3 separate regions of the Homo sapiens genome follow, and all the other regions are linked to region 1. Evidence: fine-mapped expression QTL. A gene starts in region 1. Each other region holds a variant in brackets. All regions are shown on one strand. Distances are from middle to middle. Region 1 holds the start of PROCA1 (protein interacting with cyclin A1). Region 2 overlaps TRAF4 (TNF receptor associated factor 4). Region 3 overlaps BLTP2 (bridge-like lipid transfer protein family member 2).

Evidence for each region.
Region 2: its variant is fine-mapped to the expression of PROCA1 in lung (GTEx, PIP 0.91).
Region 3: its variant is fine-mapped to the expression of PROCA1 in visceral fat (GTEx, PIP 0.97). The same link has a PIP of 0.9 or more in transverse colon.

Annotation. Positions count from the first base shown.
Region 1 is chr17:28,707,047-28,715,223 of GRCh38, forward strand. It overlaps PROCA1 (protein interacting with cyclin A1), which reads right to left and starts at 4,842. Exons shown (of 5, transcript NM_001366301.1): 1 at 4,524-4,842. The coding sequence starts at 4,614. It overlaps RAB34 (RAB34, member RAS oncogene family), which reads right to left. Exons shown (of 10, transcript NM_031934.6): 7 at 8,149-8,177; 8 at 7,986-8,076; 9 at 7,747-7,854; 10 at 7,238-7,664. The coding sequence ends at 7,597. RefSeq lists enhancers at 3,507-4,282, 4,283-5,058, 5,617-5,696 and a silencer at 4,077-4,576.
Region 2 is chr17:28,747,848-28,756,024 of GRCh38, forward strand. It overlaps TRAF4 (TNF receptor associated factor 4), which reads left to right. Exons shown (of 7, transcript NM_004295.4): 3 at 1-100; 4 at 170-331; 5 at 415-576; 6 at 664-819; 7 at 1,098-3,109. The coding sequence ends at 1,730. It overlaps FAM222B (family with sequence similarity 222 member B), which reads right to left. Exons shown (of 3, transcript NM_001077498.3): 3 at 8,133-8,177. Among named protein-coding and RNA genes, the nearest start is that of TRAF4, 7.9 kb to the left of the region's middle. RefSeq lists an enhancer at 1-243. The variant C/A (reference allele first, on the strand shown) is at 4,550.
Region 3 is chr17:28,626,740-28,634,916 of GRCh38, forward strand. BLTP2 (bridge-like lipid transfer protein family member 2) reads right to left here. Exons shown (of 39, transcript NM_014680.5): 16 at 7,778-8,177; 17 at 7,156-7,347; 18 at 6,810-7,012; 19 at 6,544-6,662; 20 at 6,203-6,423; 21 at 5,310-5,500; 22 at 5,081-5,180; 23 at 4,740-4,942; 24 at 1,526-1,820. Among named protein-coding and RNA genes, the nearest start is that of BLTP2, 14 kb to the right of the region's middle. RefSeq lists a silencer at 1,155-1,329. The variant C/T (reference allele first, on the strand shown) is at 3,236.

The DNA.
Region 1 (8,177 bases):
CAGGACTGGAAAGGAGGACTGGGGACTATGGAAGACTTCTTGGAAGGAGCATCACTAGAGTTAGTGATGAATAGGAGCCAGCCAGGGTCTAGGCAAGGAGGGACAGCTCCAGAAACTGTCCCAGGGTGTGTGGAGCCTGGACAGAGGATGACCCTAAGCAGACCTCCAACTGGGGTGGCAGCTCCCTCAGCCATTAGCAGCCACAAGACAGTCTGCCCCTTTGCCTTTCCTTCCCACAACTAGCTTTATCCCTTGAGGCACTGGACTTGAGGTCTGCTTAAGGAAGGGAAACTGATTGCTTGGGGTCTTCAGCAAGCCTTCAGTGGCACTTGGTCATCCTCCTATAAGTCTCTGGTCAGCTCCTCCTCCTGTTTTCCACAGCACGGCAAGTACTCAAAATTTGTTAAATGAACAAAAGAATGAATGAATGACTTTAAGCACTTCCTGGAAACTCCTGCAACCACTGTTTCTCTCAGCAGATAATTTCACCGCCATTATCTGTGGACACTCCAACCCTCATCAACTTTGCTTGCCTGGGAAAAGGGTGTCCCTCCTTTCTCATGCCCAAAGCATCTATATTTTAGGTCCCAGCCAGAAGTGACACCTTCTCCTTCTTTACTGGCTTCTTTTTTCCCCCCTTACAGGCTATAGACATCATAAAACAAAACACTCTGTCAATCCTGTTTCTCCTACCACTGCATATCCCCCTTTCAATCCAAATTGATTAACTCATTCAGAGGACATATGTTGGGTGGCTTCCCTCGGCACTAGAAAAGAGGCCCAGTCCCTACCTTCAGTGAGCTCAGTGTCTTCACTTCTTTCTTCTCTTCCAGCCACCTGCAACATGGCAGCCATCCACCCCCCAATCTGAATAGCTTTGGCAAAGGCCACCAGCAGTTTCCCAGTAGCCAAATCCAGTGGGCTTCTTATCTCATTTGACCCTGTTTTTTGTTTTGTTTTGTTTTTTGTTTGTTTTGTTTTGAGATTGAGTCTCGCTCTGTCGCCCAGGCTGGAGTGCAGTGGTGGGATCTCGGCTTACTGCACCCTCCGCCTCCCGGGTTCAAGCAATTCTCCTGCCTCAGCCTCCTGAGTAGCTGGGATTACAGGTGCACGCCACCACACCTGGCTAATTTTTGTATTTTTAGTAGAGACGGGGTTTCACCATGTTGGACAGGCTGGTCTCGAACTCCTGACCTTGTGATCCGCCCTCGGCCTCCCAAAGTGTTGGGATTACAGGCGTGAGCCACTGCGCCCGGCCTCACTTGACCCTATTGACCAATGAATCTCCTTCTTCTGCAAACTGTTCCTTGGGCTTCCATGGCAGACCTCATCTTTCTCTTCCTTCTCTAACCAGCTCTTTAGTTCTTCCCTGTCTCCTTTGCTGTCTCCTCTTGTTTTGTTGTATGCCTTAAATTGGTGATTACAAGAGTTCTGACTTGGTCACCTCCTCAGAAGGCTCTACAAAAGCATGTCCTGGATAACTTCATCAACTTCCATGTTTTCAACATCCACCAATGAAATGACATAAATCTGTAATCCCATCATTTTGGGAGTCTGGGCCGGGCACGGTGGCTCACGCCTGTAATCCCAGCTCTCAGAGAGGCAAGAGGCGGGAGGATAGCTTGAGCCCAGGAGTTCGAGACCTGCCTGGGCAATATAGCGAGACCCCGTTCTCCAGAAAAAGGAAAAAAAAAAAAAAACGACATTTTGGGAGTCTGAGGCGGGAAGATCACAAGTCCAGGAGTTCGAGACCAGCCTGGGCAACATGGCAAAACCCCATCTCTACAAAAAATACAAAAATTAGCTGGCTTAGTGGTGCACACCTGTAGTCCCAGCTACTCAGGAGGCTGAGGTGGGAGGATTACCTGAGCCCAGGGAGATCGAGGCCGCAGTGAGCCGTGATCACGCCACTGCATTCCAGCCTGGGCAACAGAGTGAGACCCTGTCTCAACTAAAATATATGCCTTTGATTCTAAATCCCCACCACAGCCCCATTCTATGGATGAGAACACAGAAACTCAGAGAGGATAAGTAATTTGTCCAAACATACATTGTTAATAGACTGTAGAAGTAGGATTCAAACCCAGGTCTTCCTGGTTCCATAGCCTATGCTCTTTCAGCCCTGTCTACTTACTGTTGGCTGGGGACACACCCCTGTAAACAAAGGTCATTCTGTATGTGAAGCTCCACAGCCAAGCCTTTTTTTTTGTTTTGTTTTGTTTTTCTTTTGAGAGAGTCTGGCTGTGTCGCCCAGGCTGGAGTGCAGTGGCGGGATCTTGGCTCACTGCAAGCTCCGCCTCCCGGGTTCACGCCATTCTCCTGCCTCAGCCTCCCGAGGAGCTGGGACTACAGACGCCCACCACCATGCCCGGCTAATTTTATGTATTTTTAGTAGAGACGGGGTTTCACCGTGTTAGCCAGGATGGTCTTGATCTCCTGACCTCGTGATCCGCCCGCCTCAGCCTCCCAAAGTGCTGGGATTACAGGCGTGAGCCACCGCACCCGGCCCATAGCCAAGCCTTAAAACCACATTCTGCTTGAGTGAGCCGGCGAGGCAGAGGTTGCAGTGAGCTGAGAGAGCCACAGCACTCCAGCCTGGGCGACAGAGTGAGATTCTGTCTTATAAAATAAATCACGTTCAGCTCCATATGCAAAACCTGTCCTACCAGGCCGGGTGCAGTGGCTCATGCCTGTAATCTCAGAATTTTGAGAGGCCGAGGTGGGCGGATCACTTGAGGTCCGGAGTTTGAGACCAGCATGGTCAACATGGTGAAATCCCTTCTCTAATAAAAATCCAAAAATCGGCCAGGCATGGTGGCACATACCTGTAGTCCCAGCTGCTCTGGAGGCCAAGGCATGAGAATCGCTTGAACCCCAGAAGTGTAGGTTGCAGTGAGCCGATATCGTGCTACTGCACTCCAGTGTGGGCAGCAGAGTGAGACGGCGGGAAGGACAGGTGTTTTTTTGAGGCACAGTCACTTCCTACTGCACCTGCTTTTCAGCTCCAACACTACCAATTCCTCACCCTCTGGTTTTACTCAATCTGGACTCCACAGCCTCCCTTATCCACCCTGGACCCTAAAGTCATGCCGCTGGGACCTCAGCCAGGGTGAGGAACCAAAACTCCTCTGCCTTGCTGTTTCAGGAGCCACCATGAAAGAGACACACATGGCCAGGCGCGGTGGCTCATGCCTGTAATCCCAGTACTTTGGGAGGCCGAGGTGGGCGGATCACGAGGTCAGGAGTTCAAGACCAGCCTGACCAACATGGTGAAACCCCGTCTCTACTAAAAATAAAAAAAAATAAAAAAAATAGCTGGGCGTGGTGGCGCGCGCCTGTAATCCCAGCTACTCAGGAGGCTGAGGCAGGAGAATTGTTTGAACCCGGGAGGTGGAGTTTGCAGTGAGCCGATATTGCGCCACTGCACTCCAGCCTGGGCGACAGAGCGAGATTCCATCTCAAAAAAAAAAAAAAAAAAAAAAAGCACACATGCAGGGTCAGAGCCTGTTTACTCTCCACTCACTAGCTCCCCCAGAGCTCGGACACCCATCAGCTCTGTTTGTGAAGGAGACGAGGGGAGGAAGGACAAAGGGGGAGACGAATTTAGTAACTCTCTTCAGAGCTGAGAAAAGCAATCTGCTCTTTAGTTCCAGAGGACAGGAGGAGACCTCTGACCAGCAGCAGTCCAGAGTTCCTGCAGCAGGAGTGACTGACAACACACACAATGAATGAGGAGGGTGATAGGGTGAAAGAAAGTGGGAGGCTTATGGCGTCTTTCCCCGTGAGGCGTTAATCGGCGCACAAAGGCCTAACTCAAAACTCACAAGTTATGCTCATCTGTACAGAATCCTCCCCGTCCTGCGGGGCCGAGGAGCTCTCCTCGACCTCGAGGCACTGGGGGTGGGCACCAGAGCAGCCGAAAGGAGTAGGGTGGGAAGGGAGGGAAGGAGTAGGGCGGGAAGGGAGGGAAGAAACTAGGAGAGGAAGGAGGGAAGAGGAGGAAGCAAGGGAGGGGCAGTGCGCCCGCGTCTCCTTGGAAATGCCTCTCTGGCCTCGCCGCCGCGGAGGTAATTGTGATGCCACGGGTGGAACCCTCAGTCTCCTTGGTCCACCCTCAGGGTCGATGGAACCGCCCGCTCCCGCCCCGGCGTCCGGGTGGGCGCTGGTCCACGGGCTCCAGCCAAGGCCGGCGCTTCAAGGGCAGCGGCCTGCGCCCGGTGCCACCCAGTCCGATAGCCGAGCGTTCCAGCTCTGGCTGGAACCAGACTTCCCGCCCATCCCGCGGGCGACCCAGCAGGGCCTCAGGACCCCAGTCCTCAATCATTGGCCCGCGGCTCGACGCGAGCCCGCCCCCGGCCCTAGCTCCGCCCCGGCCCTAGCTCCGCCCCGGCCCAGCACTGGGCCCCGCCTCTCTCGTTGGTTTGCCCGTCTCCCTCGTCGGTTTGCCGGCTTCCCGCGTGCGCCGCTCGGGGTCTGCGAGCCGGGCCGCGCCCTCTGCCCAGCCCCTGCCCCGCCCCTCTTACCGCGGCATCTGCTCTCATCCCACGAGCGGGCCTTGGGCTCGGTCTTTTCCTTAGTCCATCTTTCAATTGTGAGCGTCGTCCTGACCCACATCGCTCTCCGCCCAGGTCTTCGTCTCTACAGGACTCTTGCGTGAAGTCCAACCCTGAGCCTCAGCCCGGCCGAGCCCTCGGCCCAGCCGTGAACTCCAGTCTCGGCTTCGCCCCCGCCTAGCCCCTAACCCCGCCTCATGCTGGCGCAGCCCCCGCCGGCCTCCCCAGCCCGGCTCCAGGCTGCGTAGTCTTCCCAGCTGGGTCTCAGCGTCAGCCGCGTTCTTCATCCGGGGCCTCCGGCGCCTCCCAGGCCCCTCTTTATCTCAGACCTTAACCTTACAGGCCCAGCTCTCACCACCCATCTCTGGTTCCAGCTTGCAGTCCAAACCCCAGATTTTCACCCTGCCTCCAGATCGTAGCCCCAATTCTTAGTGTTACAACGAGCCTTGCCCCCAGCCCCATTCTTAGCCCCGCCCCGGCCATTCTCTAAACCGCACACTCCCGTCCCGCTCCCCGCCCCACCGACCCTTGGGAACCCAGCCGCAGCCCCGCCTCTGCCCGCTGGCGAGAGAGCGAACCCCATCTCTACAAAAAATACAAAAATTAGCTAGTTTAGTGGTGCGCACTTGTAGTCCCAGCTACTCGGGAGGCTGAGATGGGAGGATCCCCTGAGCCCAGGGAGGTCCTGGCGTCGCCATTTCCCCTCCACCTTCCGGGCTTCGAGGTCCCTCCGCCTCTGGTGGAGCCCGGGCTTCCCCTTTCTCCGCCCACAGGCCTCTCCGAAGACCTAACTCCGGGCTGAGGACCTGATGTCGGCTCCCAGCCCCTGCGCCACCCCGCAGCGTTCCCGCCCCTGGCCCCCAGGGGACACCCTATTCTAGAGACAATACTGCCCAATAGAGAGTCGTAAGCTTATCCTGATAGACAATCTGGAGAACAGGGCAGGCTGCATTCATAGGAACCTCATCCCAGTGACACCCCTCACGCCCTCAGGTACAACATACACACTCTGCGCATGCATATATCACACACACACAGAATATACTCACCACACACAGACTAATACAACATGCACACGGAACACAGAACTCCCACACCCGGTGCAGCACAAACACCACACCTGGACTGTGGTGCTGGCTTCACACACATCTGTTAACAGGCAAGGCAAGGGTGAGGAGCCCAGTGCTGCGAGGGAACAGAAATGGAAAAAACAATCACAGGAGAGTGTGAAAAGAAGTTATGGCCATATCGACGACATTCCATGCACCACACCCCTCCATTTCTCTTGGCACCAGCTTCCAAAGCCAGGATGAAGAGGAGGAGAAAGGATGGGGTCCACACCTTGTTTTCTCCACCATCATCCAGGGGCTCTGCTGCTGCTACTATTGCTCTGCCTGATCCCCACCTTCACTTTCCTCCAGACCCAAGTCCGGAGTGGGTAGGGCTGCTGCCCAGACCCTCCTTCCCGTGGTAGCTCTAGAGAGTCTAGGAACTGCGAGGGAGGGGAAGCCAGGAGAAGGGAAGTGTGCAGAAAAACCAACCATCCTGGTGAGAATGGAACCAGGAATGGAACAGACAGAGCACTTGGCAACTGGGAGCCAGAATCTGCCTTCTAACTTGGACACCCCCTTAGCCTCCCAGGATGACACGAGGCCATAAGTCCTCCTTTGTTGACCCAGATGTCTGAGGTGCTTCCAGCTACTCTGGAACTCTGGGTTAGATGTCAACAGGGAGCCAGGGTCTTGGTCACCTTTCTTTCTTATAAAAGTTAATGGCATAAACAACCAAAAAAACAAACAAAAAAAAAAAAGAAAGAAAAGTTAATGGTTATAACTCCTGAGTTCAAGCAATTCTCCTGCCTCATCCTCCCAAGTAGCTGGAGTTACAGGCATGCACCACCACGCCCGGCTAATTTTTGTATTTTATTTTATTTATTTTTTTTTATGAGACAGAGTCTCGCTCTGTCACCCAGGCTGGAGTGCAGTGGTGCCATCTCGGCTCACTGCAAGCTCCGCCTGCCAGGTTCAGGCCATTCTCCTGCCTCAGCCTCCCAAGTAGCTGGGACTACAGGCACCAGCCACCACGCCTGGCTAATTTTTTGCATTTTTAGTTTCACCATGTTAGCCAGGATGGTCTCTATCTCCTGACCTCGTGATCCGCCCGCCTCAGCCTCCCAAAGTGCTGGGATTACAGGCATGAGCCACCGCGCCCGGCCTAATTTTTGGATTTTAATGGTGACGCGGGTTTCACCATGTTGGCCAGGCTGGTCTCGAACTCCTGAATCCAAGTGATCTGCCTGCCTTGGCCTCCCAAAGTGCTGAGATTACAGGCACGAGCCACCGCACCCTGCCTGGAAAAGTACTTCTTAAAGGGAAGGCAAGAAAAGGGTGAAAAAAAGAAAAAGATTCTCCAGTGGTGAAAATTTGGGTATAAGCACCAAGTAGGAGGACACGTGTGGGGAAAGGATCAGGGGAAAGGGCTCTCAAAGCCAGCCATTCAGACTTCACCCAGTGAGGGCCCAGTGCAGCCCCCAAACTGATGTTTCAGCTCCCAGCCTACCTGAACCTGCCCAGGGGCCAGGGATGGCCAGCACAGCATCCCCAGGGGACTCTAGTGCCAAAATGGCCACACAGTCATGCCCATTCCACATCCATCATCCCCAACAAAGAACTCCAGCCCCAAAGTGCTCGTAACAAAGAAATTTTAATGCATAAGGCACAGTGAGAGGCTGGAATCATTAAGCATCCTCAAACACAAAGGGCCCAGCAGGCTGAGCAAAAGAACAGAGACACTCTCCCTCACTACCACTGGGCGCCCTGGACAGTCCCCTGAGGAGTAGGGGGCATCCAGTCTTTGGCACGGTGCCTGGGGGCAGGAAGTGACTAGCATGATCCCAGCTACCCCTCTGTGGGAATACTGCCACCAAGAGGCAGCTCTTTGGTCTGGATAAAGTCAGTGCAAATGTCCAGGGGTCAAGCTCTGGAGGAATGAGGGTGGCACAGTGCCCTAGGGCTGGGCAGTCTCTGAACAGTCTCCTCAGCCCTCATGGGCAACATGTGGGCTTCTTCTTGCTGGCAGTTAGGTAGAGGTTGCTGTCATCACTGTTGATGCCTAAAGAAGGGTGGAAAATATGTGAAGCAGGGATTGGAGGCTCACTGTGCCCTCTGCCACCCTCAACCAGGCAAGCACTCACGGACAACATCCCCAATGCGTCGAGCCCCCGATTTCTCCAGCTCAGCCAGCACATTGGCCTCAAAGGTCAGTGCTGCCACACGGAAGAAGAATTCTCGGACATTCTCACCTGACACAGAGAGCAGATAGGTGCTCAGGGGCAGTGCTGGGTCTGGGGACACAGGGCACAGCTGGAGGTGTAGCAGTGAGAGGAGAGCCAGGCAAGAGTGTCACAGCAGAGCCCTAAAGCCTCCAACTCACCAGTGAGAGATGAGACTGCCCAGTACTCAGCCTTCATCTCCTGGGCCACCTGGAGGGCGTCTTTCTCCATCAGCGCATACTGAGCAGGGGTCTGAGGGAAGGCCAGAGTCAGAGGGGGGCATTCCCTCACCAAGCTGGGAAGTCCCCCCACTGGCACACTCACACTCAGATCCTTCTTGGAACCTACAAGGA
Region 2 (8,177 bases), 41 kb after region 1:
CCCAGACCCGGAGCTGGAAGTACAAGTATTGGGCCTGCCTATCCGCTGCATCCACAGTGAGGAGGGCTGCCGCTGGAGTGGGCCACTACGTCATCTACAGGTGAGGCTCTGATGTGAGGGCTGGCACCACCTCTCCCTTGGCAGGCACTAATTGCAGCCTTCCCACCAGGGCCACCTGAATACCTGCAGCTTCAATGTCATTCCCTGCCCTAATCGCTGCCCCATGAAGCTGAGCCGCCGTGATCTACCTGCACACTTGCAGCATGACTGCCCCAAGCGGCGCCTCAAGTGCGAGTTTTGTGGCTGTGACTTCAGTGGGGAGGCCTATGAGGTGGGTGGGGTCTGGCTGAATGTGGAGGAGGGGGTACCTGATGGCCTAGGCATCTCTTAACTCAGCACCTCTGACATTTCCAGAGCCATGAGGGTATGTGCCCCCAGGAGAGTGTCTACTGTGAGAATAAGTGTGGTGCCCGCATGATGCGGCGGCTGCTGGCCCAGCATGCCACCTCTGAGTGCCCCAAGCGCACTCAGCCCTGCACCTACTGCACTAAGGAGTTCGTCTTTGACACCATCCAGGTGAGGCCTTCCCTGAACTGTGGGTTGCAGGGTAGGTGACAGGTAGTCAGGATATTGACTCCTGCCTCTCTACTTCTGTGGCCCCAGAGCCACCAGTACCAGTGCCCAAGGCTGCCTGTTGCCTGCCCCAACCAATGTGGTGTGGGCACTGTGGCTCGGGAGGACCTGCCAGGCCATCTGAAGGACAGCTGTAACACCGCCCTGGTGCTCTGCCCATTCAAAGACTCCGGCTGCAAGCACAGGGTGAGATGCCCCTTTTCCTGTCAGCCCCCTTTTGCCCTTGAAGCCCTAGACAGAGGCTCAGCTTCTGATGTACTTAGGCCTTGGTGGTCCCTGCTGTGCTGCTCTGAAACCCTCAGTCCTTCCCTCTGCTGCCAGCTCCAGCCTCTTCCTAACACCCTCTGTCTTCCTCACGTAGAGCTGGGTGCCTGCTACCCTGTACCCACTCCTCTCCTCTCCCTGGACCTCCCCCTACTGATAACTCTCCTCCCTTCCCCCATGGCCTGGGGCTTTGCCAACAGTGCCCTAAGCTGGCAATGGCACGGCATGTGGAGGAGAGTGTGAAGCCACATCTGGCCATGATGTGTGCCCTGGTGAGCCGGCAACGGCAGGAGCTGCAGGAGCTTCGGCGAGAGCTGGAGGAGCTATCAGTGGGCAGTGATGGCGTGCTCATCTGGAAGATTGGCAGCTATGGACGGCGGCTACAGGAGGCCAAGGCCAAGCCCAACCTTGAGTGCTTCAGCCCAGCCTTCTACACACATAAGTATGGTTACAAGCTGCAGGTGTCTGCATTCCTCAATGGCAATGGCAGTGGTGAGGGCACACACCTCTCACTGTACATTCGTGTGCTGCCTGGTGCCTTTGACAATCTCCTTGAGTGGCCCTTTGCCCGCCGTGTCACCTTCTCCCTGCTGGATCAGAGCGACCCTGGGCTGGCTAAACCACAGCACGTCACTGAGACCTTCCACCCCGACCCAAACTGGAAGAATTTCCAGAAGCCAGGCACGTGGCGGGGCTCCCTGGATGAGAGTTCTCTGGGCTTTGGTTATCCCAAGTTCATCTCCCACCAGGACATTCGAAAGCGAAACTATGTGCGGGATGATGCAGTCTTCATCCGTGCTGCTGTTGAACTGCCCCGGAAGATCCTCAGCTGAGTGCAGGTGGGGTTCGAGGGGAAAGGACGATGGGGCATGACCTCAGTCAGGCACTGGCTGAACTTGGAGAGGGGGCCGGACCCCCGTCAGCTGCTTCTGCTGCCTAGGTTCTGTTACCCCATCCTCCCTCCCCCAGCCACCACCCTCAGGTGCCTCCAATTGGTGCTTCAGCCCTGGCCCCTGTGGGGAACAGGTCTTGGGGTCATGAAGGGCTGGAAACAAGTGACCCCAGGGCCTGTCTCCCTTCTTGGGTAGGGCAGACATGCCTTGGTGCCGGTCACACTCTACACGGACTGAGGTGCCTGCTCAGGTGCTATGTCCCAAGAGCCATAAGGGGGTGGGAATTGGGGAGGGAGAAAGGGTAGTTCAAAGAGTCTGTCTTGAGATCTGATTTTTTCCCCCTTTACCTAGCTGTGCCCCCTCTGGTTATTTATTTCCTTAGTGCCAGGAGGGCACAGCAGGGGAGCCCTGATTTTTAATAAATCCGGAATTGTATTTATTAATTTGCTTCCAGCCTGACTTACCTGGGTTGGTTAGGTCCCTGGGAGGCTCAACCAAACTGAAGGCAAAGAAAGGACCAGTCAGAGAAGGGCCGCTGCCTGGGTCTGGCCCCAGGATCCAGCTTACCTGCTGGCTCGCCCTCTGATGGACGCCGGGAAAACTGCATCGGGCTTTGTGTGGAAGACGGTCCCTGCCACTGCCCTCTGCCGATGAAATGCGGGAAGTGTATGGCCTAGATGTTTCATAAGGCTGGAGTCCCTGGTCAGCCCCACCAGATTAGTGCTTCTACCCTAGGCAGGGCTTTCTTGGTCTAATGGTAATAAGCACCGACACTGCTAAGCACTTTACGTGCATTATTATTTCATTGAAAAGAACTGTCAAGTGAAATACTTTTTAGCACAGTAACTGGCTTTGTGGGCTCTAGAGAAGAGTTAATGAGGCAGTGCATGTTCTTGGCCCAGAGTAAGTGCTTAGTGAATGCTTTCTAACTCCGAACCCCAGCCACATCCAGGGACTGGGTGTTGAGCAAAAGGGGCCTTCAAGATGTTCAAGGCACTTGGATTTTCTCCTGTCTCTCATCGGCTTTTCTTAACGGGCCTCAGTGGGTGCATGTGATTATCCACGTTTCACCTATGAAACATGAACAGAGGAGACTGACTTATCAGTGATTCTTCCGCGGGTTCGGACAGGGCCTCGATTCTGTTTTAAACTCCAGTAGTCCCTAGAAATTGTAGCTCCCTCTAGTTGTGGCAATAGGTGTGGGTCCTTGTGCTTGCTTTTGGCAAGTTTCTGAGCTACACAGGGCCTCCATTACCGTCACTGGTGAAATGCGGCTCACCTCCCAGATTTGTTGTAAAGATTAAATGAACTGGTCAGCACACAGTGCCTTACTGTCTTGCCTAGCCCTGAGAAGAGGCTGTATGTACGAGAATCATTAGTAAGGGAAGGTTCAAGGACTGTAGTTCTTTCTTTTCCCATGCAGAGGCTGAGGGTTTAAACAAAAAAAAAAAAAACTCAGCCTCTGCTGCACACGACTAGCTACTCAGGAGGCTGAGGTGGGAGGATGGCTTGAGCCCAGGAGGCAGAGGTTAAAGTGAGCAGAGATTGCGCTACTGCACTCCAGCCTGTGTGGCAGAGCCAGACCCTGTCTCAAAAAAAAAGGCCTTGGGCTGGGCGAAGTGGCTCACTCACACCTGTAATCCCAGCATTTTGGGAGGTTGAGGTGGACGGATCACGAGGTCAGGAGATCAAGACCATCCTGGCTAACATGGTGAAACCCCGTCTCTACTAAAAATACAAAAAAAAATTAGCTGGTGTGGTGACACGCACCTGTAGTCCCAACTACTCAGAAGGCTGAGGCAGGAGAATCACTTGAACCCGGGAGGCGGAGGTTGCAGTGAGCCAAGATCGCGTCATTGCACTCCGGCCTGGCGACAGGGAGAATAAAAAAAAAAAAAACCCTTTATGGGGTGACAGGACAGGACTAAGCCTCAGTGAGCCAGGCTGGGGAGGTCATCATCGGCCCAATCTTTCTTTTCAAAAAGGTCAAATTGACTTACTTATCTAGGGAGAAATGGGGCCCTCCTGCCTAGGTGAGAAACTAGAGCTGGGCTTCTTCACCAGATAAACCGTCTTGGTACGGTGATGCCTGGAGACTGGTAGAGGCAACCATGGGCTCCAGCAGCATAAATGCTTTCAGGCAACAGGCTGAAACACCTTTCCAGAATCCCAGCTACACACCTGACCGAGCACAGTGGCTGATGCCTATAATCCCAGCACTTTGGGAGCCTGAGTTGGAGATGACCCTGGGCAACAAAGGGAGCCACCCCGTATCTACAAAAAAATATAAGGAGCCGGGCACAGTGGCTCACACCTGTAATCGCAACACTTTGGGAGGCTAAGGAGGGCGGATTACCTGAGGTCAGGAGTTCAACACCAGCCTGGCCAACATGGTGAAACAAAAGTCTCTACTAAAAATACAAAAATTAGCTGGGCGTGGTGGCAGGTGCCTATAATCACACCTACTTGGGAGGCTGAGACAGGAGTATTGCTTGAACCTGGGAGGTAGAGTCTGCAGTGAGCTGAGATCGCACCACTGCACTCCAGCCTGGGCAACAATGAGCAAAACTCCATCTCAAAAAAAAAAAAAAAAAATTAGTTGGGCATGGTGGTGCACACCTGTAGTCCCAGCTACTTGGGAGGCCCAGGCAGAAGAATCACTTGAACCTGGGAGGTGGAGGTTGCAGTGAGCTGAACTCCAGCCTGGGAAACATAGTGAGACTCCGTCTCTAAATAAATAAATACACTGTCACTGCATG[C/A]TTCCGGGGGTCACATTCACATAGTCTAGATGGTGCCTCCTAGAGTTGCATGCAAACAATGGGGCTGTTAACCCCATACTCTGCAAGCCTTGCACACCTGGACCTTATTCAGTGCTAGTCATAACTTGCAGAATTCAGGCCATGTTCTGCAATAAAAGTGTGAGCTGCACTCCCCAAGGATCTACCTCAGCCCAGGAATCATTCACTCTGGAGGAAGCGCTGTACTTTACTAATGTCTAGCTCCGCTTTTGGGCCGACTGCAGATCTTATCTGACACAGGCAGAAGACAGCTTCCTTTCACAGGGGTGGCATGAGGCATAAAGGAGTCAAAACACTTTCACAAAAGAACACCCTCGGCCAGGCACAGTGGCTCACGCCTGTAATCCCAGCACTTTGGGAGGTTGAGGCGAGCGGATCACAAGATCAGGAGTTCAAGACCAGCCTGACCAACATGGCGAAACCCCGTCTCTACTAAAAATACAAAAATTACCTGGGCATGGTGGCGCACACCTGTAGTCCCAGCTTCTCATGGGGCTGAGGCAGGAGAATCACTTGAACCCGGGAGGTGGAGGTTGCAGTGAGCTAAGATCGTGCCACTGCCCGCCTGAACGACAGAGCAAGAGACTATCTCAAGGAAAAAAAAGCACCCCCATCCTGGCTAACATGGTGAAACCCCATCTCTACTAAAAATACAAAAATTAGCCAGGCATGGCGGCGGGCGCCTGTAGTCCCAGCTACTCAGGAGGCTGAGGCAGGAGAATGGTGTGAACCCAGGAGGTGGAGCCTGCAGTGAGCCTAGATTGCGCCACTGCACTCCAGCCTGGGCGACAGAGTGAGACTCCGTCTGAAAAAAAATAAAAAAACAAAAGCACCCTACAGAAAAGGGTGTGCTCAAGAAAGAAGGCTGGTGCTTTAGCTCCGTCAGCATTCAGGAAGCCACCTGCGGACTCTTGCCGCCAAGGGTCTGATTCTACCCTCCCTGAATCCCCCATCTTGTGGAATCTATATGTGTATATATATAATCTATATATATATTATATAATTATATATATAGATATTATATGTATACATATAGATATTATAATTATATATATATATACACACATATATATATAATCTTTTTTTTGAGACAGAGTCTCACTCTTTTTGCCCAGGCTGGAGTGCAGTGGCACGATTTCAGCTCACCGCAACCTCTGCCTCCCGGGTTCACAAGCGATTCTCCTGCCTCAGCCTCCCGAGTAGCTGGGATTACAGGCCCCTGCCACCATGCCTGGCTAATTTTTGTATCTTTAGTAGAGACGGGATTTCACCATGTTGGCCAGGCTGGTCTCAAACTCCTGACCTTAGGTGATCTGGCTGGCCTTCACTTCCCAAAGTGCTGGGATTACAGAGGTGAGCCACTGTGCCAAGCCTCAATTTTCTTTTCTCTTTTTTTTTTTTACGGAGTTTTTTCTCGTCATCCAGGCTGGAGTGCAGTGGCGCGATCTTGGCTCACTGCAACCTCTGCCTCCCAGGTTCAAGTGATTCTCGTGCCTCAGCCTCCTGAGTAGCTGGGACTACAGGCGCCCGCTGCCATGCCTGGCTAATTTTTGTATTTTTAGTAGAGACGGGTTTTCACCATGTTGGCCAGGCTGGTCTCGAACTCCTGACCTTAGGTGATCCAGCTGGCCTCAGCCTCCCAAAGTGCTGGGATTACAGGTGTGAGCCACCACACCCGGCCTCAGTTTTCTTTTTTTAAAAAAATAGTTTTTTCATTTAGAGATGGGGGTCTCACTCCTGTCACCCAGATACTGGCACTGCAGCCGTAAACTCTCGGGCTTGAGGAATCCTACCACTTCAGCCTCCCAAGCAGCTGGGACTACAGGTATGTGCCATCACACCCAACTTTTGTTTTTTTTTTTTTTTTTTTTTGAGACTGAGTTTCACTCGTTGCCCAGGCTGGAGTGCAATGGCGCGATCTCGGCTCACCACAACCTCCGCCTCCGAGGTTCAAGCAACTCTCCTGCCTCAGCCTCCCGAGTAGCTGGGATTACAGGCATGCGCCACCATGCCCAGCTAATTTTGTATTTTTAATAGAGACAAGGTTTCTCCATGTTGGTCAGGCCGGTCTTGAACTCCCGACCTCAGGTGATCCGCCTGCCTCGGCCTCCCAAAGTGCTGGGATTACAGGCGTGAGCCACTGTACCCGGACTACACACCCAACTTTTTACAATTTTTGAAGACACAGGGTCTCACCCCTGGGCACAAGCAATCCACTTCAGCCACCCAGAGCTAGGATTACAGGCATGAGCCACCGCACCCAGCCAGAATCAACTTTTCCTTCCATTACATCTTAGCTCAAACCCAAGCTCAACAGAAGAGGAGGGTAACTTAATTCATTTTTTTTTTTTTTTTCCTGAGACGGGAGTCTCACTGTCGCCCAGGCTGGAGTGCAGTGGCATAATCTCGGCTCACTGCAACCTCCGCCTCCCAGGTTCAAGCGATTCTCCTGTCTCACCCTCCTGAGTAGCTGGAATTACAGGCGCGTGGTACCACGCCCAGCTAATTTTTGTATTGTTAGTAGAGACTGGGTTTCCCCGTGTTTGTCAGGTTGGTCTTGAACTCCTGACCTCAGATGATCCACCTGCTTTGGCCTCCCAAAGTGCTGGGATTACAGGCATGAGCCACTGTGCCTGGCTGCAATCACTTAGTGTTTTTTTTTTTTCCTCTGCAGACAAAAAAATAAAGTTATCCAAAATTCAACATAAGAAAACTGTAATCACCAAGAGGAGCCAGTTACATTGCAGATAACAGTGCCTATCACCTTCACCTCTGTCAGAGGCCCTCAGAATTTCCAAAGTGTTGGAAGTGGAAGAAGGCAGGTTTGAAGTTTTAGGTTGGGTTATTAGCAAACCAGATCCCCATTTCTTGGCTGGGCATGGTGGTTCACGCCTGTAATCTCAGCACTTTGGGAGGCCGAGGCAGGTGTATCACTTGAGGTCGGGAGTTCGAGACCAGCCTGGCCAACATGGTGAAACCCCATCTCTACTAATAATACAAAAAATTAGCTGAGCGTGGTGGCAGGCACCTGTAATCCCAGCTACTCAGGAGGCTGAGACAGGAGAATCCTTTGAACCTGGGAAGTGGAGGTTGCAGTGAGCCGAGATCGTGCCACTGGACTCCAGCCTGGGCGACAGAGCAAGACTTCGCCTCAAACAAAACAAAACAACCAGATCGCCATTTCTCAATGACTTATGGCCCTTGGAATGCAAGTGGCAGGACCTTTTGGGCCTCCAGTGAGGGACAGCAAACCACACTTATCCTCAAACTTCACAGTAAGCCCACAGCAGCCCTGCCCAGGGAGAGGGCCTGTCAGCCGGGTACCCTGTGTCCAGGGTTTCATTGAAGAACTGTCTACAATCACCATAGCACCTGGCCTTAAATAATGGATTTGGAGACGGCTTCTGGGTGGGATGCATATTACAGGGGTACCCCTTTTAAAAATTAGGAATTACTCCTATGAAGTGAGGTATGTTAGAAACTGTTAAGAAAAAGTTACCTCAAACATTCACAGCACTAAACGAATAGAACAAGGTCAGAAAGCGAGGTTTTCTTATTTTTACTGGTTTATAATAATCTTAAAAACCCC
Region 3 (8,177 bases), 80 kb before region 1:
TGCCTGGGGAGGGCACAGAAGCTTCCCGCCACTTCCCATACCTCGCACTATGCATCTCTTCATCCATATCCTTTGTAATACCCTTTACAGTAATCCAGTAAACATGTTTCCTTCAGTCCTGTGAGCTGCTCTAGCAAATTAATTGAACCCAAGGAGGGGGTTGTGGGAACCCGTTTATAGCCAGTTGGTGAGAAGCACAGATAAAGCAACCTGGAGCCTGTGACTGGCATATGAAGGAGAAGGGCGGGCTTAGAGACTGAGTCGTCAACCTTTGGAATCTGATGCTGTCCCTGGGTAGATAGTGTCAGAATTGAACTGAATTAGAGGACACCCAACTGGTGTCCACTGCAGAATTAATTGCTTGCTTATTGGTTGGGAAAAATTCCCACACATTTGGTCACAGAAGTCTTCTGTGTCAATTGTTTTCGAGTGAGGGAATAGAAAAAACACTTTTGAGTTTGGGTTTTTCCACTCAAGACTCTGCTTTGAACGCACTAGGCTTTCAAACTCCACTCCTACTCAGATTATTCCCTCTGCATTGATTGCCCTTCTACCCCATTTCTACATGTTCAAACCATACTAGGCTTTCAAGGCCTGGCTCAAATGCTACTTCCTCAATAAACCCTCCCCTGATGGTATTCCCCCCTTCACTCCTGTCAGCAATACCTCCATTTTTTTTTTTTTTGAGACAGAGACTTGCTCTGTGGCCCAGGCTGGAGTGCAGTGGTGCGATCTAGGCTCACTGCAAGCTCTGCCTCCCAGGTTCATGCCATTCTCCTGCCTCAGCCTCCCAAGTAGCTGGGACTACAAGCACCCGCCACCATGCACGGCTAATTTTTTTGTATTTTTAGTAGAGATGGGGTTTCACCGTGTTAGCCAGGATAGTCTCGATCTCCTGACCCACCCACCTCAGCCTCCCAAAGTACTGGGATTACAGGCGTGAGCCACTGCGCCCGGCCCCATATTCTTTTTTTGAGATGGAGTCCTGCTCTATCACCTCCACCTCCTGGGTTCAAGCGAATCTCGTGCCTTAGCCTCCCGAGTAGCTGGGATTACAGGTACTTGCCACCATGCCTGGTTAATTTTTTTTGTATTATTTTTAGTAGAGATGGGGTTTTGCCATGTTGGCCAGGCTGGTCTTGAACTCCTCACTTCAAGTGACCCACCCACCTCGGCCTCCAAAAGTGCTGGAATTACAGGAGTGAGCCACTGTGCCCATCCAACTCCCATTTTCTTTTATTTCTCTCTTATGGCATTTACCACTTTGCTTCTTTCCCTTACTCATCTTGTTTTGGCTCCAACACTCCCCTTCTGATTCTCTTCTGGCCATAGGACCAGACCATTTAATGCCCCAACATCACTGTTACTTAATATGTAAGACTTAGGTGGCCTAAGAAGGAAAAATAATAGTTTCACTTCTTTACCTAGATAGAAGCACCATGACTCAGTCCTTTTAAAACTCCTGTCCAAGCCCATATCCATGTTCTAAACCCAAACCCAAAAAGTCTCATCTCCCCGAGCTTACCTCCTGATGACCCCTTATCAGGTTGTCCACTGAAGCTGGGAGTGTTAACACGAGGTGGGGCTGAGGCACTAGTTGGGACACCCCGCTTTGGCTTTTTGGCTGGCATCTGTGGATCAATCTTTAACCCCTTCAGGGCCTCAGTAGAAAGATTACGTTTGAGTACAGCTGCCTTTTTGTACCCATCATATAACCCAAAGGCAATGTCTCGATTGGTAGTTGTCCAGGAAATCCGTAAATCTACTAAGTGCAGCTGATGTGTATGAAAGGTAGGATCCCCATCACGAGCAGAGAGCTCCTAAGAAACAGGAAAAGGACTTCAGGGTAGCATGGAAATTGCCCCCAGTGCCACAGAGGCAGTGATAAAAGTTTGTTGAATAAGAAACCTGTTGGCCAGATGCCATGGCTCATGCCCGTAATCCCAGCACTTTGGGAGGCCGAAGTGGGCAAATCACGAGATCAGGAGTTTGGGACCAGCCTGGCCAACCTGGTGAAACCCCATCTCTACTAAAAATACAAAAAATTAGCTGGGCATGGTGGCTGGCACTGGTAATCCCAGCTACTCAGGAAGCTGAGGCAGGAGAATCGCTTGAACCTGGCAGGTGGAGGTTGCAGTGAGCCGAGATCACACCACTGCACTCTAGCCCAGGCGACAGAGAGAGACGCAGTCTCAAAAAAAAAAAAAAATTCACTGGGCGTGGTGGGGAGACAGACCCTGGAGAAGAAAAACTAAGTGGTCTTGGCTTTTATATTATATTACATTCAAACTATACCTACTGTATTTTATTCTTTATCAAAAAACGTTTTCAGAGTTCCTCTAAAATTTTTTTTTTAAGAAATGGAGTCTATTTTGTCCAGACTGGTCTTGAACTCCTGGCTTCAAGCAATCTTCCTGCCTTAGTCTCCCAAGTAGCTGGGACTACGGGCACAAGCCACTGTGCTGGCCCATTTTATTTTTTAAATATATTTATTTATTTTTATTTATTTATTTGAGACAGAATCTGGTTCTGTCTCCCAGGCTGAAGTGCAGTGGTGTGATTTTTTTTTGAGACAGAGTCTCACTCCATCACCCACGCTGGAGTGCAGTGGCATGATCTTGGCTAACTGCAACCTCTGCCTCCCAGGTTCAAGCGATTCTCATGCTTCAGTCTCCAAGTACCTGGGGATTACAGGTATGTGCTACCACACCTGGCTAATTTATTTATTTTTTATTTATTTATTTATTTATTTTTTGGAAACAGAGTCTCACTCTTGTCGTCCAGGCTGAAGGCAATGGTGCGATCTCAGCTGGCTGCAACCTCCACTTCCCGGGTTCAAGCGATTCTCCTGCCTCAGCCTCCCGAGTAGCTCGGATTACAGGCACCTGCCACCACGCCCAGCAAATTTTTGTATTTTTTAGTAAAGATGGGGTTTCACCATATTGGCCAGGCTGGTCTCAAACTCCTGACCTCAAATGATCCGCCCACCTTGGCATCCCAAAGTGCTGGGATTACAGTCGTGAGCCACTATACCTGGCCTAATTTTTGTATTTTTAGTAGAGACAGGGTTTCACCATGTTGGCCAGTCTGGTCTCAAACTCCTGACCTCGACTGATCCATCTGCCTCAGCCTCCCAAAGTGTAGGGATTACAGGTGTGAGCCACTGCACCCAGCCTTAATGGTGCAATCCTGGCTCACTACAACCTCTGCCTCTTGGGCTCAAGCCATCCTCCTA[C/T]CTCAGCCTCCTAAATAGCTAGGACTACAGGTGCATGCCACCATGCCTGGCTAATTTTTTTGTATTTTTTGTAGAAACACGGTTTCACCATGTTGCCCAGGCTGGTCTGGAACTCTTGAGCTCAAGGGATCCACCCACCCTGGCCTCCCAGAGTGCTGGGATTACAGGCATGAGCCATCACACTTTGCCTATTTATTTCTGAGATGGGGTCTCACTCTGTCACCCAGGCTGGAGAGCAGTGATGCGGTCATGGCTCACTGCAGCCTCGATTTCCCAGACTCCAGCCATCTTCCCACCTCAGCCTCCCGAGTAGCTGGGACCACAGGCACATGCCACCACACCCAGATAATTTTTTGTATTTTTGGTAGAGACAGGGTTTCCTCATGTTGCCCAGACTGGTCTCAAACTCCTGAGCTCAAGCAATCCACCTGCTTCAGCCTCCCAAAGTGTTGGGATTACAGGCATGAGCCACCTGAGCCCAGCCCCCACTGTTTTTTTTTTTTTTTTTTTTTTTTTGTATTTTGGAGACAGCATCTTGCTCTGTCACCCAGCTTGGAGCGCACTGGTGTGACCTCGGCTCTCTGCAACCTCCACCTCCCGGGTTCAAGAGATTCTCCTGCCTCAACCTCCCAAGTAGCTGGAACTACGGTCATGTACCACCATTCCCAGCTAATTCTTTTGTATTTTTAGTAGAGATGGGGGTTTCACCATGTTGGTCAGGCTAGTCTTGAACTCCTGACTTCAAATGATCCATCCGCCTTGGCCTCCCAAAGTGCTGGGATTACAGGCATGAGCCACCGCACCCAGCCCTCCCCCACTGTATTTTAAATGACTTGAGAATTTCAACTTAAAATCCTTCCCTAATTGGGGGAAAGGCAGTACCAATTTTTTTTTCAGTGTTAGGAAAAAATTTTACTCTATTTCCTAAAGAGTAACATACTATTTTTAGGAGAGAAAGAAAAAGTATTTTCAAAAAGAAGGATGCTGATACAGCTAAACCAAATGAGTTTGTCATAAAGTAATGACATACATGCTTGGAATATATGAGAAACCTTACCAGGGACTTAATCTGCAACCTACTCCTATGGACTTTACTGTGTTCCCCCCAAATTCATATGTTGAAGTCCTAACCCCCAATGTAACAGTATGTGGAGATGGGCCTTTGGGAGGTAATGACATAAGGTCACGAGGGTGGGGCACTCATGACAGAATTAGTGCTTTTACAATAAGAGAAACCAGAGCACTCGTGCACACTTGTGCTCTCTCTCCCTCTCTGCCATGTGAGGACAGACACAAGGCAGCCATCTGCAAGCCAGGAAGACAGCCCTCACCAGAACCCAACCATGCGGGCACCGTGATCTTGGACTTCCCAGTAGCCAAAACTCATAAATAAATTTTTGTTGTATAAACCTCCCAGTCTCTGGTATTTTGTTATGGCAGCCCAAGTAGGCTGAGATACCTACTAATATAAATAAGGTAATAAAGAAAGTGTGTCAGGGAGTACCTCCTCAGCTGTGCGATTGCTATGCCGTTGGTAGGTGAGGGAGGACAAGCTCAGCAGGTGGGTCTTTGTTACCAAGGGATCAAGACAGTGATCAGCATTCTCTTCAGTGGGTGAGGCCATCAGGTGAACGGTCACCTGACTTAGGTCACTCACCATCTGGGTAACACTCCAATCAGAGATAAGGCGCCGCATCACTGTGCCTGCTGAGAAAAAGAGGCACACAGAGACCATGCTGACCAGTTCAGAGGATAGTGTAAGACAGAGATGGAGGAGGGGAATGGAACTGAGAAGGGAAAAACAAGGAACAGGATAGGAGAAATGAAAGGAGTCTTTCATTTTACCTTGAGGTATAAGCCGCTGAGTCCCCCGAGTGAAGACATGGCCCTGACTGCACTCAATCTGGATGCCCCGTTGCTGGGCAAATGAGGCCCAATAATGTACCTGGCAACAAGAGAGCATAACATTAACAAAGGATGGCATGAGAGGGATGATTAAGGGACTCAATATGAGAAACAAGAAAACTAGAAGCAGAATAAAGTGAAGATGTCAGCAGGGACATCAGTGCCTTACCTGCAGCTGGGGAAAGAGGGCTGTATAGGAAAGTTGCTTGTAGTGCTGACCAAGTTTCTTCTTGCTGGGTTTCAGGTTATTGAAGAGCTTTCCCCTGCAGATAGGCCTTGTGACACTTGTCCAAGTTGCCCAGAAGTTTTGCATCCAGCGCAGGGTACTACTATATAGCAGAATTCGGGGCTGGGATATTGCTGCAAAGAGAAAGACAGACATTTCCTAGTTATGGATGAAACACAGAGGTAAAGCTAAATCCTTCCCTTGCTGCAGGTTGTAGAGGTTTAAAAATCCAAAATCCAAACAGCACCTAGCCTCACATTCAGCATCCCCAACTCCCTCTTCTTTCAAGGATCTAAGCTCTCTGCTTTCCCCTACTGCTATGGTCTAAATGTTTGCATCTCCCCAAAATTCATGCTGAAATACCCCTAAGGTAATGATGTTAAGAGGTGGGCCTCTGGGAGGTCACTAGATCATGACGGTGGAGCCTTCATGAATAGGATTAGTGCCCTTTTAAAAGTGGTCCAAGGGAGCTCACTGACTCCTTCCACCATATTAGGACACAGCAAAAAGGCACCATCTATGAGGAATGGGCCCTCACTGACACTGAATCTATCAGCTCTTTTTGATCTTCGACTTTCAAGCCTCCAGAACTGTGAGAGATAAACGCTTGTTGTTTATAAGCTACCAAACTTGTGGTATTACTGTTATAGCAGCCAAAAAGGACTAAGACACCAACCCTTTCCCCTGCCAAAAAACAAAAAAAAAGGTCCTAACCTAGATTCTCCCTTGCCCTTCTCCCCTCCCCTCCCCTCCCCAGAGGGTCAAGCTAAAGTCCCCAGCATCCATGCCCGTCCTCCCAAGCCCTTCCTCCCCACTGCCCCAGGCCCAAGCCTCACTTCCACTGTGCCGAGTCAGATCCATCTTGATGGAGAGATTGAGGTTCTCCGAGCGAAAGGCCCGGTAGGAGTCATGAAGCTGGCCCAAGGGCACCTCAGGCAGGAACTCTGGGGCCCGCAGAGTGACACTATGGTGATCATGGGGGTTCCCATGGCACAGCCACTGCAGGTCCAGTGTCATGCAGAGGTCAGGCAGGTGAAGGAAGCAGCAGTCGTCATACCTGCCTCACAATGGAACCCCAGCCCTCAGTGCCCTGGTCACTCACTTCCCCTTGGCTCTTCCCCCTCCCTCCAACCTGAGCCCCTCATCCCATGGAGGACCCTCCCTTCACTCCACTCACTTAGAGGCTGTTCTCACGTTGATATCCAAGTCACCCTTGAACACAAACTGACCAGGTTTCCAATGAAAAGACAGGTGGCTCCACTCCCAGTGCATATTTTCAGTTGTGTTGTATGGATCCTATGACCACCCCCGAGAATTTGGTGAGATATAGGTAAGAAAACCATCCTCATCTCCCAAATCAGCACCTGTCTCTCTTCCCACATGTGCTATACAGACCTCAACCATACCATCCTGATAGGATAAAAGTATCATGACACCCCTCACCTCAGTGGCCAGCTGGTGCAGGTTCGCCTGTTCAATGTCCATGTGCCAGTCTCCATGGAACAGAAGACGGCTCTTGTCCCACCAGGGCAAAGGTGGGCTGGGGTCAGCTGAGGGCTTGGTCAAGAGGTCCACACACTGGCCAATTAGTGTCCAGGCTGGATCCCAGCATGGGCCCCACACCACTGTGTACTGGAATATTTCCGCTGGGGTAGAGGAACAAAGGCTATAACTTGTTCACAACATTACCCCTCTCTTCCTCCTTCACTCCAGAAGGGTCTCAGCTCACCTCCCATTTCACCCATCACAAACGTCCCTCAGCCAAACCAACTGCCTCATCTCTACTCACAGTGAAAGTCATGGTAGAATTTGAGTGGGGGCATGTTCCTCTCCACTGCCACGTTACCCCACGGAAGCCCCAAGTGCAAGATCTGACGCCGACGGGAGCAAGGCTGACCACTCTGCTCGGTGCCCACAAGTCGACCCATTAGCCGCCAGTCACGGATCTCAAACAGGTACCGTGGATAGTCCCTGATCCGAACTGTTACCAGAGGAAGGGTACACACTGGCTACTCAGGGGCAGTCTGAGCACTCTCGGGCCTATCTTTTTCCTCACCACTATTTTACCCATCTATATTTACAAAGTCAATTGAGAGAACAAGGGCAGGCAGTTGACACAGCAAGCTGAAAAATGACAGTGACCCTGGAGCAGGTGGTTAAGGGCATAGCACTGAGATCCAAGAGACACAATAACCTTAAAGATGACTGTGTTAGCTTTCCCTTTATGTTAGCCAAGCAATTTCACGGTGAAATTCAGGAACAAAGAAAGGGAAGGGAAGCCCACCCATCCCACTCCACCCACCCAAAACGGCACAGTTCCCAATATAACCTAGTTCCTCTGAAATCACTGAGAGCTCCCCAGAGCTCAGCGGGCAAACACGGGGTCTGCAAATAAAGGAAACACTACTTACCCAGAAAGCTCTTGACATTGCACTTGAGCATTCGACACCACTGAATGACAAGATCTAATCCCTCAGGGGGAAAAGGGCTGCCTGGATCAAGCTCTTGAACCTGTTCTACCACATGCTCAGGACCATGGAAGGAGGCATCTGCCAGAGCTACCAGTTCTAGCCCTGCTAAGCTCCAAGTAAGCAGTGCCCGGCGCATGGGTGTGTTGCCATAGAGACGACGGGAACGCTGGATGTAGATTTCAATGTTTTTGCGTTCCAAAGAGGCATAGAGCTCCTCAATTTTGCGGGCAGGCAACAACTCCCCATGCTGCTTCCGAAGGGCGGCCACTTTAGCATCCAGTAGCTGTAGTCTTTTGGCACTCTCCTTACTTTCATCCTTCATCAGCTCGTAGTTATCATG